Regions from separate parts of the Homo sapiens genome. Here region 1 is linked to region 2. A link means that fine-mapping ties the variant in region 2 to the expression of a gene that starts in the linked region. Tissue or cell type: unexposed skin. Region 2 holds a variant in brackets; the other region holds the start of a gene. All regions are shown on one strand. Distances are from middle to middle.

The links. PIP is the estimated chance that this variant, and not a neighbour inherited with it, causes the effect.
Region 1: it holds the start of ROBO3, and the variant in region 2 is fine-mapped to the expression of ROBO3 in unexposed skin (GTEx, PIP 0.96).

Annotation. Positions count from the first base shown.
Region 1 is chr11:124,862,137-124,870,236 of GRCh38, forward strand. ROBO3 (roundabout guidance receptor 3) reads left to right here and starts at 3,296. Exons shown (of 28, transcript NM_022370.4): 1 at 3,296-3,601; 2 at 6,666-6,992; 3 at 7,314-7,471; 4 at 7,812-7,932; 5 at 8,029-8,100. The coding sequence starts at 3,442. RefSeq lists enhancers at 771-1,272, 3,612-4,288, 6,338-6,868.
Region 2 is chr11:124,886,259-124,894,358 of GRCh38, forward strand. It overlaps ROBO4 (roundabout guidance receptor 4), which reads right to left. Exons shown (of 18, transcript NM_019055.6): 8 at 7,943-8,100; 9 at 7,602-7,787; 10 at 7,430-7,472; 11 at 5,408-5,544; 12 at 5,041-5,304; 13 at 1,475-1,582; 14 at 1,100-1,241; 15 at 719-955; 16 at 206-564. LOC107984406 (a long non-coding RNA gene) reads left to right here and starts at 5,541. Exons shown (of 2, transcript XR_001748429.3): 1 at 5,541-5,874. RefSeq lists enhancers at 1-414, 415-928. The variant T/G (reference allele first, on the strand shown) is at 3,490.

The DNA.
Region 1 (8,100 bases), 24 kb before region 2:
CTATATTACCTCATCAACTCCTGGCCCAGGGCTCTTTTCTAGGGCTCTACCTGTGAACCCACACATGCACACACACGCAAACACACACACACACACACACTTCTTCCCATCAGATGCTGTAACCTTATCAGAACAAACTTAGCTCCTAACTCTACAAATTCAACTCGCCCCAACCTCCCTGCTTCCTGCTACTCTCTCTTCTTTCTGCCAAATCTCCTTCAAAACCTCTGTTTCTTTTTCTTACCCTTTCTAAAGTCTGGACTGTACATATTGTTGGTAAAACTCTGGGAAAGAAGTAGTTTCCTGAGGTGGTAGAAGAGAGGGTCTCTAAACCCAACTCTGACTCTTTCTCCAGCCCAAGGTGGAAATTTATAAGTCAACAGAATGAATGCACCCCGGCTGAGGCTCCTCCAATTGCAGGGCATCTACTCAGTGTTTTAGGTGCTGTACAGGCACTTACAGTTGACAAATTAGGAAATGGACATAGTTGCAAAGAGTTGCATACCCACTCCAGAAAAAGGACAAAGAGTTGTCTTGGTAATTTTCAGAGAGCAGAGCAGGCAGTGAGGAGACTAGTAGGAGGCAAACCCCTTTCAGAACTGCCTATGGGGGTAGCCAGGAGAGAAGCTGGATGTGGACAGGGGCAGGGCCAGTTTCTAGGCTGCCTGTCTGACCCTCAGTAAAGAAGAGAAGGTGGGGAGAGGGCTGCAGAAGAGCTGGGAGGTGTGACTTCTGCTGGGCCTTCTCTGCCCACTCTCTGCTCCACTCTGCCTAGCCCAGGGCCGTAAGGACACTAGAGAATGGGAAGGAAAAGGGAGGGAACTTAGGTTATGGTTGGGAGGTATTTATTCTCTGATATCCCCAGTTGGGAGAACTCAGCCCTCTTGGCTTAGATCTGAGTTTGGTTTAAAAGGAGAGTATCATCAAGATAAAGAGAAGTACAAAGAAGGAAAGAGCAGAGAGAAACAAGAAAAAGTGGAGAGTGAAAATTAGAGAGAGCCCAGACGAGGTGAAGTGTAGGAGAGACAGCAGATTCCTGGAAAGTAGAGTGGCCCGGCTATTTGTCCAGCCTCCAAACCCACGTGACAGGGACTGTGAAGCAGCCTTGCTCACGGGTTGAGCCGCGCCTCCGCTCAGGGAACCCTGAGCAAATACGCCCTGATCCCCACATAAAGGGCCAATTAACTGCGCCGTCTCCGGGAACAAATCCGCTAACAGGGTGACAAGCCCCTAGACGCTGGCAGGCCCTGTGTTTGCGGAGAGGCCAGCCGGGAGCAAATCAGGGCATTAGGACCGGGCAGGAGCCGCATGGTGGGAGGGTTTCTGGCCCCCTCCGCCCCAGAGTAGGGCCTGGTACCAGGACGTGGGGTTTCTATCCCGATTCAGCCTCTGCTGTGATGGAACCCAGGTGACCGCGGTCAGCAGGGGGCGGAGCAAAGGGCCCCGGAGCCTCGAATCTCACAGGTCAGAGTAGATCAAGCACTCCAATTCCTCCTTAACAGATGGGAAAACTGAGATCCAAAGCGGTGACGTCTTGTACTTGGCAAACGTAGAATTAGAACCCACTTCTGTGTTGGTCATTCCTGAAGGATAGATTTCGGGTGGGAAATACATCCCTTACTTTCTCTCTTATCTGAATACCACCCTGGAGCGAGGAAGGGAGGGGCGTCAAATCTCTTATTATCTTCTTGCTTTTGAAAGGATGTGTCTCTAGCCCGTCTCCCACCTACCCCAGTCCTCAGCCTCAGGGTCTGCTCGGATTTATGTCTTCCCTGGGGGCTCCAGGGCCCTAGTCAGGCACCTGCAGATGAGGTGCTGAAAAGGACAGCTCCCAGGGCGCTGCGTGGCGGTGGGGTGGGGGGTCCATCCGGCCCCACCCCCACTCCCACCTACCCCCTCCCCCACACCTAGTGCTTCCAGCCTTTCTACGTCCCGCCCAGAACTGCTAGGGTTGGAAGGCACCTAAACACCCATAGTTGGAGGCTCACAGCCAGGCGCCTGGACTGAGGAAGGAGGCTTGGAACAAGCCCCCCACCCCTTGACAATGTCTCGGGTTCCCTTGAACAAGCTCTGCCTGAAATATTTCAATTCTTGATTCTGCTTACTCCAGAGTCTGCGACTGTATAGCACCCACCCCTCTGATCTCGACCCCTTTGGGGTCAGAAGCAGTCGCCCCATGAAAGTTGTCTCATCCCAGAACCTGACGGCTGAGCCAGAACTCTGGCACTGACTCTTCAATCAGCAGGGCCTTACCTCAGGTTAGGAATGCCCCGGCCTCTCTCTTTCCCTGATACCCCAAAGCCATCTCCTGTCTAGGAAAGTGAGTTTGTCGAGGTGGGTCTTCAGGTAGAAAGAACTCCAGAAAAGTCAGAAGCAGACCGCGACTGGAAGTGGGAGGTGGGAGTAGGGGCCCATGGTTTTCTTTTCGCCCCCCCCAGGAAGGACGACTGCTATCCGATTTGAACAGATTTGCACTAATTTTGCAGCAATCCCACATGCCTTTACAAAAATAATATTATCTTTGTTTTTGTCCTAGAATCCTTGGTTCCATTTCAGTCTCCTCAAAAACGTAAAACAATTTAATAAAAAATGTCAAAGCAGGGTAATGTAAAAGGATTCAAATAAATGACAGTTGCCTGGGTTTCCCTGGCTTTCAGTCTCCTACAGGAACTCCTAGATTAGGGCGTTTGGAGCAGGACTCCCGGGTCAGGGCGCGCCGCTCCATCCTCTGGCCTCCTGGCTGCAGACCAAAGGACCAGAGGGCAGAGAGGTGGACCTGTCTTGGAATTCTCTGCCTACTCCCAACTCTTGCTGCAAACCACCCCAGTCTCCTGCCCTTCCGTCGCCAAACCCCTAGACTTGGGAGGGAATGGAAACCAGAACTTTGGCAGCAAGGAGCATTGCTTGCGCTTTGCCTCAGTTTCCAAAAGGTTCGGGAAAAGAGAGGACAGATTCCTGTTCTAAAGTTGGGCAGAAGGGCAGAGTCCGACAGAGCCTCGTCCCTCATCTTGGGTGCTTTGAGACAGGGAAAATCTCTCGCCGCGTCCAGAACGGAACGCTGGGCTTGGGGTGCGGGGCGGGGACTCCAACTCGCGCGCTACGCTACTCGTGTCTCCTGCTCGGATAGTGACTGTAGAGGTAAGGGTGGGAGGGTGGAGGGAGGCGGATTAATCCCTTAATTACGCCGTGATCGGCGTGGCACCTGCTTTCCGCCTGCCCAGCTCCCAGGGGACTCCGGCACTAGGGGGTGGAGAGAAGGACGAGGGAAGGAGGAGGGCACGAAGAGGCACCGACCGTACCCAGGCGCACCGGCAGGAGAGCGGCACCGTGGCTGCCGCAGCGCGCAGAGGCTGTGGAGGGGCTTACGGCTCCCAGCCCACGGGTCTCAGACCCAGGGGCTGGGCCCCCAGCCCCCAGTCCCGATCCCAGCTGGGTCGAGCCATGCTGCGCTACCTGCTGAAAACGCTGCTGCAGATGAACTTGTTCGCGGACTCTCTGGCCGGGGACATCTCCAACTCCAGCGAGCTGCTCTTGGGCTTCAACTCCTCGCTGGCGGCGCTCAACCACACCCTGCTGCCTCCCGGCGATCCCTCTCTCAACGGTGAGACCCTGCCTCTTGGGGATATGGGATCCTGGGATGGGGATGAGGTGAGAGGGCGGCGTGGAAGGGAAGGAGAAGCGCTCCTGTCCCGAGGTCCGGGATTGAGTGGCGCCTCCCAGCGCCTCCCTGGGTCGTGGGGTCTAAGGGATAATTTGGAGCTTCGAGCACATGAGTGGGGGTACCCGCGGGAGGTCGAGGGCTTGGGAGAAGATGGCTACTGAGTCTTTTTACACCTCCTTCCCTTCCCCTACAACGCCCACCCCAGGTGAGAAGAACCGTTGCTGGTAACGGGCAGGGAAGTCCGAGCTAAGAAAGGCCCGGGCCCAGCGCAGGGAGGGCAGAGGAGGGGGCACAGTCTCCCGCCGGCCTCGGCCAAGCCAGGTCACTCGGTGACCCACCCAGGCAGCTGGTCTTCGGAACCCCGAAGTTTCCCAAGAACTCACTTAGGACCAGAGGAAGCCAAAATGCTGGATGTGTTTGCTACGGAGGGGATAGGGGCGGCGATCATTTTAAGGAAACTTAGAAGTTTGTCTTTCAGCGGCGGGACTCTCAGCCGGCCCACCCCGGCAGAGCTGTGGCGGGCGGGCGGAGCTGGCGGCGAGGTCGTTACCGCTAATTACGGTGATTAATAAATGACTGGGACAGCGCGCTCTCCCCTAGCGCCGCGGGGAAGCTGCGGGAGCCGGCCGCCGCCAGCCTGCGGAGAGGCCGGAGCGCGCCCCCTGCCTGCCGCATCGGGAACCCCCGCTTTACCGGGCGCTTTCGCGTGTGGTTCCCTCCAGGTGCACGCGGTCCCCATCCCTCTGCCTCGACCCACTCGAGTCTAGTGACGAGCACTGTGCTGGGGACTCGAAGGTGGAGAGAAAGGAGACCCTGGCAATATGTGTGTGTTCATGTGTGGGGCACATCAGGTGCTGAGGGAGGAGCCCCAGAGCCTCATTAGCATGGCCATTAGCTATTCATTAGGCTGCAGTCGAAGCATCTCCTGAGACCGGGAAGGGTAGAGGGGGAAATTCCAGGGAAAGGGCGCCTGCAGCTGTGTCTACAGGAATTAGGGGGAAAAGGCCGACCAGAAGGGTGTGGTCCGTATAGAAGGATTGGGGAGAAAGACGATGGGGGAGGAGCCCGATTCTCCAACCTCTTGACCCTCCTAGATTTCCAGGAGGTTAAGCACAGATCCCTTCTCGCTGGCACCCCGCAGAGTCCCGCTTCTGCTCACCTAGCGCGTTTACAGAGTGTTTTCACCATACTTTGTCTCATCTAAGCTCGAAACTTAGTGAGGTATGCAAGGAAGGTGTTGACAGACACATTTTGCCGCCGAGAAAACGCTTTATAGAGTGAATGGTGCCCTAATCGTCACAAAAGCAGCATGAAGCAAAACCTAGCGATAACAGATCAGTCCATTTCCATTACACCTGAGGGCTATACCAAGGGGAAAAAAGAATATTGGGGCCTGGTAGAATTTGATTCAGGTAGAGACTGTAGGAGCCAAGATAAGGTGCATATGCTGGGAACACAAGCCCTTAAATAATGGCAGAGTAGTGACGTTTATCCCCCAAGGGCTTTACATACATTATGGTCTTAGAGCAACCCTATCACTGCTCTCACATCACAAAGAAAGAAACTGAGACTGAGAGAAGTTAAATAATTTGCCCAAGTTCTTACAGCTAGGAAGCGTCAAAGTCTGAGATTCCAGCCCTGGTTGGTTCAACAGCAACACTTGCTCTCAATCACTCCAGTGTTGCTCACCACGGGGTGTTCCAAAATTGGGAATGGGAGGAGATGGAGGAGAAGAGAAGGGTGAAAAGCAGAGATTTCCATTTGGAAGGGAGGAGATGGAGAAAATTACTCTCCCAAGTGGGACAGAAATCGATCTTCTTGACTCCAGGCAATTAAAATAAACTCAGAACAGCGCCAGCACGGGTCAGCCTGTCCAGCTTTGTCTACAACAGAACTTCTAAGAGGGGGGGCAGGAAATGAAACCCAATCTCACAGGCGGGCTGGAAGCGGGAGGTTCCTGCAGATTTTGGAACAGGGTAGGAAGGGGGGAACAGGGGGAGGGGGCAGGGGGCAGAACAGATGCTTGAAGTGGTCCCTGGTTATTTTACAGCAGGTTATTAAAGGCTGCAGTGGCACCTACTGGCCGCCACGGGTTACAAATCCACTTTTGTTGGCTGGACTAGGGGCTGAGAGTGCCGGAGTATAACAGGCTCCGGGATCCTAACCGTGCTGCAGAAGGTGAAACAGGCCAAAGTCTGCAGGCCAAGTGACAGGTAGGACAGAATATGTGGATGAACTGATCGGAGTGAACAGGGGAAGTAGAGGAACATCAATCAGTAGAATAATCTATTGGAAACTATGCACCTGTCAGGAAAAGGAGCCTTACTAACATTTCTACTGCTATTTGCGTTCAATTCCTGTGACTTCACAGGACCCTTGAAATGAAGCGTGATTATCCGGGGTGTCAGTAAGAAGGGCCCTGTGCCGATTCATAGAATCCAGGTTGACAAGCCCTTCTAGGCCCGGCCCTGTCACTCCCGTCTTGCCTTTCATAAGGGATCCCAAGCCAGTCCACATTCCCAATTTCACTGAGCCAGGACCTTGCAGAAGTCAAGAACAAACTGTTGGCTCCAGTGCACGGTTTATGGTCTTTCACTGAGCAAGGACGATCCGTGAACCAGTGCAGGTGGAGATGGAAACCACTGGGCAGGAGGCGAGGGAGCGGTCTACTCGCCAAGCGTGGTTCAGCCACTCCCGCTTAAACTTGGCAGGAGAGGAGACGGAGGTCTCTAGGTGGTCCAGAAAGCCGGCCTAGAAGTTTGTGTCCCGATCCCTCTACTAACCGGCCTGTCTGTAGGCATCTTCCTTTGAGACGAGGAACGCGGAACGTCTGCCAATAAGGACATATTGGATCCTGCAGAGGGAGAGGGTAGGCAGGTGGGGACTGAGCTCCGCAGAGAAGCATAGGAGATGGAACGACCAGAGGATTCTCTTTCCCTCTGGAGCCTCAATCTCTCCCCACAATTTCCCTGTCTGAACGCTCTGCGCCACCCCCTGTCCCCAGGGTCAAGGGTAGGACCGGAGGACGCTATGCCCCGCATCGTGGAGCAGCCGCCAGATCTGCTGGTCTCCCGAGGCGAGCCCGCCACGTTGCCCTGCCGCGCTGAAGGCCGACCCCGACCCAACATTGAGTGGTACAAGAACGGGGCGCGTGTGGCCACTGTGCGGGAGGATCCGCGTGCGCACCGCCTGCTGCTGCCCAGCGGCGCCCTCTTCTTCCCGCGCATCGTGCACGGGCGCCGCGCGCGGCCGGACGAAGGTGTCTACACTTGCGTGGCTCGCAACTACCTGGGGGCAGCAGCGAGCAGAAACGCCTCGCTGGAAGTGGCAGGTGAGAGTCAGTTGACCGTCAGCTGGTTGCTTCCAGAGCCTGGGGTAGGCGGGAGGGCACTGGGCAATCAGACCCAGAACCAGCCCCAAAGGACTTCAGCCCACTCAGCATCCTTCTTTGGGACCGCGACCTTTGATCTCTAATGGCCACACCACGGCCAGAGAAGGAAGTGGATCTGACTCCAGGCTGATATTTTCTCACCTGGGAACGAATTCCAGTCTGCAGCGATCAACCCCTTCCCAAGACAACACTTTCCCTGTGTCCTCAGCCAGTTATGTCACTCTACACCCTGCTTATTTCGCCCCCCACCGCCCCGCCCAGTCCTCCGTGATGATTTCCGGCAGTCTCCTGGAAACGTGGTGGTGGCAGTGGGGGAGCCAGCAGTACTGGAATGCGTGCCCCCCCGCGGCCACCCGGAGCCTTCCGTGTCCTGGAGGAAGGACGGTGCAAGACTCAAGGAAGAGGAAGGAAGGATCACGGTGAGGGCGGGATTATGATTGGAGACCCCAACAAGGGAGGGGACATAGGGTAGGGAGGTGACAAGGCTGGAGATTGAGATCAGGGCATTAGCTAACCAGAGACTAAGAGTCAGCTATACAGTGAGGGATAAGGAAGACGGAATTGGTATAAAAAAGGGGCGGGGGCATGATGCCCCAGGAACTTCCCATTTGATATGTGGGTCAACTTCCTTGGTCTCCTTTATCAGCTTGCTGTGAGGATCAAATAAACTTTATACATATGTATATACACATATATTCACCATATATATATACGCTGTGATAGCTGAAATGGACCAAAGTTACCATTATTGCTCTGCAGATCCGTGGAGGGAAGCTGATGATGTCACATACACTCAAGAGCGATGCAGGCATGTATGTGTGCGTAGCCTCCAACATGGCGGGAGAACGGGAGAGTGCGGCAGCTGAAGTCATGGTACTGGGTAGGCACAGGGAATTTTGACATTATGGGAACAGGTAGCCTGCAGAGTAAGTAGCCGTGCAGACACCCTGACTGTTCACTCACTACCACTCCATAGAGCGTCCCTCATTCCTGCGCAGACCAGTGAATCAGGTGGTCCTGGCTGATGCCCCTGTGACTTTCCTATGTG
Region 2 (8,100 bases):
CTTACAGTTTCCTCATTAGGATAAGAGAGATAAAGAATATTCCACATAGACTTTCAATATTAAATGTATGCAAAGCACTTATCATAGTGCCTGAGATACAATAATCATTCAATAAAACTAGTTGTTTTAACAATGATGACATGATAACAGTTGTTAGAAAGGCAAGGGGCATGAGTGAGGAGTAAGATGGGGAGACCTCACATACCTATGAAGACGCAGTCTGCCTCCCTGGGCTCTAGACCGAAACCAAAGCTATCCACAGCCACTGCCAGGGCCCGGGCAAAGTGAGCATCAGCGAGGAAGGAGCCATCGGAGGAGCTGACAAGGCTGGCTCTGGCGCTGGCGGCATTGTCCTCAGAGGCTGAGCCCCAACCATTGGCTAAGGAGCCCTCGCTGGGGGTGGGGGTGAGGCAGGGCCGAGGTGGGCACAGCAAGACTCCCCCCTTGGGCCCCACCCCTCCTCCAGTCCTGCCCATGTCCGTGAACTCTGAGGCTGTTGGGACGCTGATGTACCCATAGGTGGTGGGGGGTGAAGGAGCCCTTGGCATGGGAGAGACGCTGTTCCTAGGGAGAGGCAAAAGGGGAGACAGCAATGGTTTGGGTGGAATGAGGGTTGTAGTAACAGAAAAGCCCCAGTTGAGGGAGGGCGGAATGGGTGGAGAGGCGCTTGCCCCCACAGCTTTTCTGTAGTTCTTTGGTTATCTCTCAAGCTACTCACCTGGGAGTCTCCTCACCCTCACTGAGTTCCAAGCACAGGGCTACCTCCTCAGGGGTCAGCACGCTGTCTTGATCCTCCCCCAGGGATGACAGTGAGGAGCTGGACAGGCGACTGGAAGCTGGGCTGGGGCCAGAGAGGGAAGAGGCCTGGGGGCTAGGGGGACTGCAGGGGCTAAGGATGGGGATGGGGGCTGCTGGCAGCAGGATGGAGGAGGGAGCCTGTGGTGCCACCGGAGGCCTGATTTGCGGGAGAGAGTGATGGCACCGTAGTTACTACAGCTCTTCAAGTCCTTTCCCCCCTTCCCCAGCCTGTCCAATCCCGGCACACACTCCCCACACCCCCACTCTCCCAGCCCTGCTTCCCGACCCCATGCCCTCTTACTGGGTCTGTTGACTCTGAGTTGGGGGAGTTTCATGAGGAAAGAGGGGTGCTGGAGGGAGATGACGAGTAACCAGCTCATTTGAGGAGCTGAGGAGTTTCGGTCCCAGGGCCCGCCAGGCAACCAGAGCTTGGGGCACAGCTCCTGGGGAAGAGAAGCCTGGGTGTGAGAACAGTGGCATCCCCATCTGCTCTGGAGCTCAGCCTGCCGGCCTGCCCACCAGCCCCCTTAGCTACCTGTCCACTACTCCATCCAACCCTCATCAGCCTCCTCAGGGAAAGGAGGATGAGCCCGTGGGAGGGCCCTGGGCTGGTAAGCCCCTGCATCCCTACACCCTATCTCACCCCTTCACTTCCCTTTCAGGGACCCCCTCTCACCTGGGCTTTGGGAAAGGTTCTTGGAACCTCTATTTCCTAACTCACAGGCCCGGAGCTCCAAGGAGTGGCTGCCCCGGAGCAGTGGGGAACTGTTGGCATGCTGCAGCTCTGCAAAGAAAGGGTTGGTGGTTGTGGGGCCCAGGATGGACTTTTCAGACCCCAGCTGCTGGCTCTATCTTCAGCCTTATTCAATTCAGCCTGCACGACCCTGAACCCAGAGAAAAGAGGGGGAACCCCCTGAATCCCCTCCACACCCCCATCTTCATCCAGCAGCTGTGATAGGGTAGAAGGAGCACTAGGCTTGGGGTCAAAAGACCTGCCCAGCTCAGCTGTGTGACTTCAGGGCAGTCCATGTACCTTTCTGAGTCTCAGTTTCATGTGTAAACAACCACTTCGAATGATGGTCTTGACAATTAAGTAAAAACAGATTGCACAAGTTCTTGGCCTTGATAGATGCTTTAAAAAACAACTTTCTTTTCCTTGACTGTATTCATTCCAATCTTCCTGATCTCTATACCCTCACATTGCTACTCTCATGAATTTTGGCTCAGTAAGAAAAATACTCCTTCTTTTCTTGGACAGAATCTATTAATTTCCATTTCTCACATTGCAAATATCTCACATGGCTCTGGATAGCCCTGCTCTGGGAAACTCGACTGTCTCTCACTTGAAAGATGGGGTAGACTGTCAGGTTGAGCTGAGTGGGTAGGACAAAAACAGGGATCGACACACAATGTTGGCTGTGACAGGAGACAGTCAGCTAATAGGAAGAGGAACTTCAGAGTGGGAAAAGGTATTGGTCTATCCCAGGGACGCAATGCCCTGCCCATACTTTTTGTTGAATGAAAGAGTGAATGCATGGGTGATATCAGAAATGTGGATATAAACACACAGTGAGAAGAGTCACCTAGAAGATGGAAGCTGTCATCTGGCCCACATGGGCAGTGGAGAGACAGGGCTCTGAGTGAACTTTCACAACAGAGAAGCTGGAAACTAAAGAGACAGCCCTAACTATGTGCAATGACCTGTGAGCATGCTTCTTGGTCAGACCAGAATGCAAAAGGGATCTAAGTTTAAGCCAGAGAGGAATAGGGTAATACAGGAGAGAGATTTTTCCAGGAGCAGGAACCTGAAGAACATCAGACAAAGGAGAAAAGAAACAGCCTTTAGATTAGTGTCCCATGACCAGAAGCCCAGCTAGGAAAGAGTTTCCCCTCTTGGTGGACCAGGGACCAGGCAGGACCTTCAGGGTAGAGCTATCTAGTCAGTCACATATCAGAGATCTGGGGGCCACTACGGGCAGCTTCAGAGAAGGGAAGTGAGCCAGGCTTTGGCATTGACCAAGACCCCATTTATGTACTAGTGGCCAGACCTTCTGATCCTTTAGGATGAAAACTCATCAATGACTAGACTCCCTCCGTCAAAGTTTCCTTTGGTACTTTGGCTGTTTGGTTTTTATTGATTTTCTATAGCTTTCATATGACCCAGGTAATCTGGGGAGCCAACTTCAGGGTTGGTGCACCAACTCTGCTATCATCAGCTATGTCTTGTCTGGTGCCTGGCTTCTTGACTAAGCTCAGAAATATGAGCACAAGTTGGTTGGCTGGTTTGAGTGGAAAGGGAAAGAAAACAGCCAGGCCTGGAAAAGGCCACTTTTATCCTAGCCTGTTTCACTTCCTCTAAGGGACTCTGGTAACAAAAGCCCTCCTCCTATGTTGCTTGGAGTTACTTGGACTTTAGTTTCAATTCTAATTGAATAAACTGGACAAGAAAAATGTTATCAAGGTGAAAGGTTGAAACTCATTGGTCAAATTGCAATAAATATTTGTTTGAATAAAATAATGAATGAATGAGGATATTCAGTGCATATATCTGGCAAACTGAGCAGAACTAAGAACCTGCTATGATGGATGAGAGACAGGAGACTGTAATTGTGAGGATATCAGCACTGGAGAAGAAACCCCAACTAAGGCCAAATAATAAGAAAAAGGAACAAGCAGGTCAAGGGGAGTGGG[T/G]GGTACTGGGAGAGCCTGCCAGTTTTAGAAGAGGAAGAAACAGCAGTAGAATCAACTCCATGGGTCTGGAGAAGACCATAGCATGATCTTGTTGCTGCTGAGGTCCTGGGAGGTAGAGGTAGAATATCTAGTGTCTACCAGCCAAGGAGTCGCTGCAGTTGACCTATCCTGGGGGCAGTGGTGAGATGGGGCTGGAGCGAGGAGAAACAGGGAGTGAAGTAAGGACCTAAACCACAGGCTAGGAAGCCTCATCTCAGAATTGGAACCCTTCTTAAGAACTGGCTGTAGAAAACCACTCACCTCTTTCCAGTAGCATTACTGTTCTAAGAGGGGCTATCCATTCCATTAAAGTTGGTGTAGTTCTCCCTGGGAAGGCTGTTTTTTAAATGAGACTATTCCACCTTTTTTTTAGCTGGTGTTTCGTTACCACCAAGGATTTATAATGCAATAGCTCTGAGGCAAAGCTGGTAAGAATGCCAGCTTCGCTGATATTTACAGTCATAAAATTCTGGATATTGAACAAGCTGTTAATTATCTTAATCCATCTTTGTCTTATTAAAAGTTGGATTAAATCCACTTAAAAAAAAGACTTGGCTGTAGAACATTTGTTAGGTCTTACTAATTAGTACAGAAGACTCAAGAAGACAGCAGGTAGATTGCAGGCCAATGTTCTGCAGGCCAGAAATAGGAAAAAATACTCAAAGAGAGAATAGGATTTCCTGAGGGAGCTCCAGAGAGACTCAGAATCACTTCAGAGGCAGACTATCCTGCCTTCAGATTTGAGTCCTGCAGCTAATTACTTGCAGAATTTTGAACCAGTAACTCAATCATTCTGACCCTCTTCCTGTCTGTAAAATTAGAGAAATAGTAGCTAGCCAATCTATTGTGAGGATTAAATGAAATAACAAACATAAGTAAAGCACCTAGTATATAGCAATTGATAAAAAATGGAGGCTATAATTATTTTTCTCTGAAAAGTCTAAGAATGCAGCTGGGAGTCAGGAGATAAACCTGTCCAGAAAGGAAATACCCATTCCTCTCTGAGAAGTGAGTTGGGAGTCGGTGCCCAAGCACACCTGTACATAGTACACCAGGAGATGAGCTCGTGGGAGCCTGAGGCTTTGTGCCAGCACTGGTCACATTCCCCCAGGCTCTAGCATTACTTGTTTGCTAGTCAACACTTTCGTTAGACAGGCCCTGAGCCCTTAGAAGTCAGGGGCTGTGTCTGACGTCTCTTGTGTTCCCCATGTTTGGCATGCAGTGGTGCTTATTAAACGTTTGCTGAGTTGAATTGAGTGCAGAATTAGGGCTCACTGCTGGTGTAGCCAAACTGAAACAAGAGCACAGTGCAAAAAGCTGAGGCTATTGCACCCCTAGCTGAGTGCTCTGGTGGTAGGAGAAAGAGGTCTTGTGTCCACCTGGAGAGGAGAATGGAAGGAGGGTGTGGAGGTTGCACGCCCCTCCAGGCTTTGAGGCCTTGTTCCCATCACATTCCCATTCCTGGGCCCGCCTACCACCAGCTCAGTCTATGTCTATTCTCCCCCTCCTTACCCTGCTTCTTTTTGGCCTTCCAAGCCTCTGCAGGGGCCAGAGACAAGCGGGGAGAAGAGAGTCCCCTGCGGCTGCAGAGGCTGTCTGAGCTGGAACAGGGGCTGGAGAGCTGGGCCAGCTGGGGTGGGAGGCGCCTGACAGCTGGGACCTGGGGACTTGGCCTGGCTGGGGTACTGGAGGGCAGCTCAGCGATGAGGGAGCCATAAAAAGTGCTGGTGTCTGGAAGCAGGGGCACGCCGGGGCTTCGGGAGTCCCAGGAGAGCACTGTGACATAAATGACAGGAGGAATTATGGTGAGCATGTCCTGCTTTCCATCCCTGAGATCACTGCCCCCAGCTAGGCCCTTGCCCCCACTGAGCATGCTCACAGGAGCGACGACAGTCTAGTGGGTCCCGGGCATCCGCCCCCAGCCGACTGCTGAGGCTGCTGCTGCTGCTCAGGTCCCGAGAGCCAGAGGTGGAACGCCAAGTGTCTGCCAACCACTGGGAGTCACTGTGATCCATCCTGGGGCAGTGGAGGGAGGGGGTGAGGCCAGGAGAAACAGGGAGAAGTGAGAACCTTTTTGGCCAAGACTTCCTGTTCAGAGGCAGCAGAAGAGGGCAAGGAGATGGTGGCTTTATCCTTACTACTGCTTTTCAGCTTTTCACAGACTCCTTAAGATCTCTGACCTGGTCCCCTAAACCCAGCACCCCTTTCTTATTCCTGGATGAGGGGAAATCCGAGTCACCCAGAGCTGGGAGGTAGTAATGACAGACAGCTATGTATGCTGAGGTAAAAAGAAGACCTGAAGACAAATCTGGTTTGACAATCTCTATCTGTCACAGCTTAGCTTGGGTAAGTACATCTGTTGCACTTGGGTAAGTACATCCTCTCTAAGCCCCAGTTTTCTCATCTGTAAAATGATGGCAATAGGGCCTTCCACACTCAAGACTGATGGTCTGGGTTTATATGAGGAAATGTGAGATCACTCAGCTGGCAGAGCAGGAGCTTGCTCCATGGATATTGGCCTCTGGCTGCCTGAGTGATCCTTCAAGAACAGGGATCTGAGCAAGGAGCTTCTCTGCGTAAGACCTTCAATGGCCCCTCATTTACCATGATAGAGCCCAGGTACCTAGCATGGCTAAGAGGACCTTCCTTGGTCTGGCTTCCAGCTCCCTAACTATAGCCTTTGCTCTGACCCATCTCACACCCTATACCCGAGCCAGAACAAATGGTTTGTCTTTCCCTGTGGACATAGCAGGCTATTACTTGCTGCTTCATTGCTCTTCTCTCCATCCCCTTCTTACTGTCAGGGTAATGTGGAATCTTCTTTCTCCTATGTTTTTCCACATTGACCCCCTCCATGTGTCTTGTACCTGCTTCTGCGTGGCCAATACAGGATTGCACTCATATCCCCTCATGCCTGTCTCTGCCTACACTGAGAGATTCTGGCAGGTGGAGGCTATTCCAAAGGAAAGAATGAACCAAAGATCAGAAGGAATCTCCCTCAAGGACAGAGCAGGAGATCCTAGGGAAGCCACAGAAAGCTTAAGGCAGAGCAGACAAAGCCAGGAGGTAGCTGGAAGAAAGAAGCCAGTGAGCTCAGAAAACTCAAAACACAACACCAGCCAGCTTGGACCCCTGCTCTGGGCTGAGGACCTGACAGTGAAATGGCAGCTCTAGGCCTGGATTTGCTGGCACATAGTAGGTGCTCAGTAACTTCTGTGGATAGATGCAGACCTGGAGTGGGAAGCCTCCCAGAGGAGATCTAGCGAAATAAAGAGCCAAGAAGGCAGACAGAGAGATGAGGCGGTTACTTAGTACAAAACTCAGACAACGGGAGCAAGAAGGATGTGTTCTCTATCAGCATGATGTCCCAGAACTGCAGACTTGTTCTGGCAGCCGAATATACCGGAAGCAGAAGGGCCCATGGGCAGATCCTGTTTTTGAGAACAGTGAGGAAGAATCTATGATGTAGGCACTGAACACCCTCTGCTGGAGCTGCGGGTGGACTATGATGTAGGCACAATGGCTCAGTGAGAGAATTACTGAGTGCAAAGGCACTACTTGGTAGACCATGGGTGCACGCATAAGATGAGACATTTGAGGTGGTCGTCTCATGCTGATTATTCTCCACCTAGCGGGTGAGGCAGCAGGAGAGGTGGGGTGACAAGAGTCCTGGATTGGGGGTTTAGAAGGTTTTATGAGTTTCAGTTTACTAGTCTGTCAAGTGGTGTGATAGGAATATTAATGACAGAGAAATGAACTATCAGTTGGAGTTACAGGAGAGATTCATGTACGACAGTCCCAAACTCCCTGGCAGGTAGACTAGTACTCCATTCTTCTCTGTTGCAGCTCCACTGTCCCTTGCCACCCTCCCTTACTTCAGACCTCCCCTTTCACCTCTCACCTGTGTTTTAGGATGGCATCCTCACTGGTATATCTGTACAGACCTGGGAGAAGGCAGGAGGAAAGCTAAATCCAGAGGCTGGATCACCTGGTCAGAGATCCAAAGCCCCTGCACCATTCTGGCTGGATGCTGAGGAGGCCTGTATACATGTGGGTCCCCCTCAGACTCTCACCTGGGCCCAGGTGCACCCTAGCTCGGCGCCGGCGGTGGATACACACGGCGGTGCCCAGAAGCAGCAGCCAGAGTGCAACACCGCAGGTGGCAATGACCTCAGGCCGCTTCAAGGTAGCCCTCAGCTGCTCCAGGGTCCAGGGACCATGCTCACTGGGTTCTTGGGTGGCTCGCTCCATGGCCTGCTCTGTATGGGATGCAGAGCTCAGAGGGAGAGGGAGTCGAGGCATTGAGGGCCTGGCAGGCAAGGGGGAAGAGCTGGAAGTGTGAGGCGGGAGCAGGGAGAGAGGAAGGCGGGATGCAGGCTGAAGGGTAGGGTGGGTCTGTGGGCACTGCCCTCACCTAAAAGGAGGCAGACAGGTCTACTGGGCTCCCCAGCTCCAGCACCAGTGACTGCAGCCACTTGCACGCAGTAGGAGCCTGGCATATGGGTGGCGATTTCCAGCTGGGTCTGCTCACCAACTACAGTCCAGTTGGCTGGTGGCAGTGATGTGTTGCCC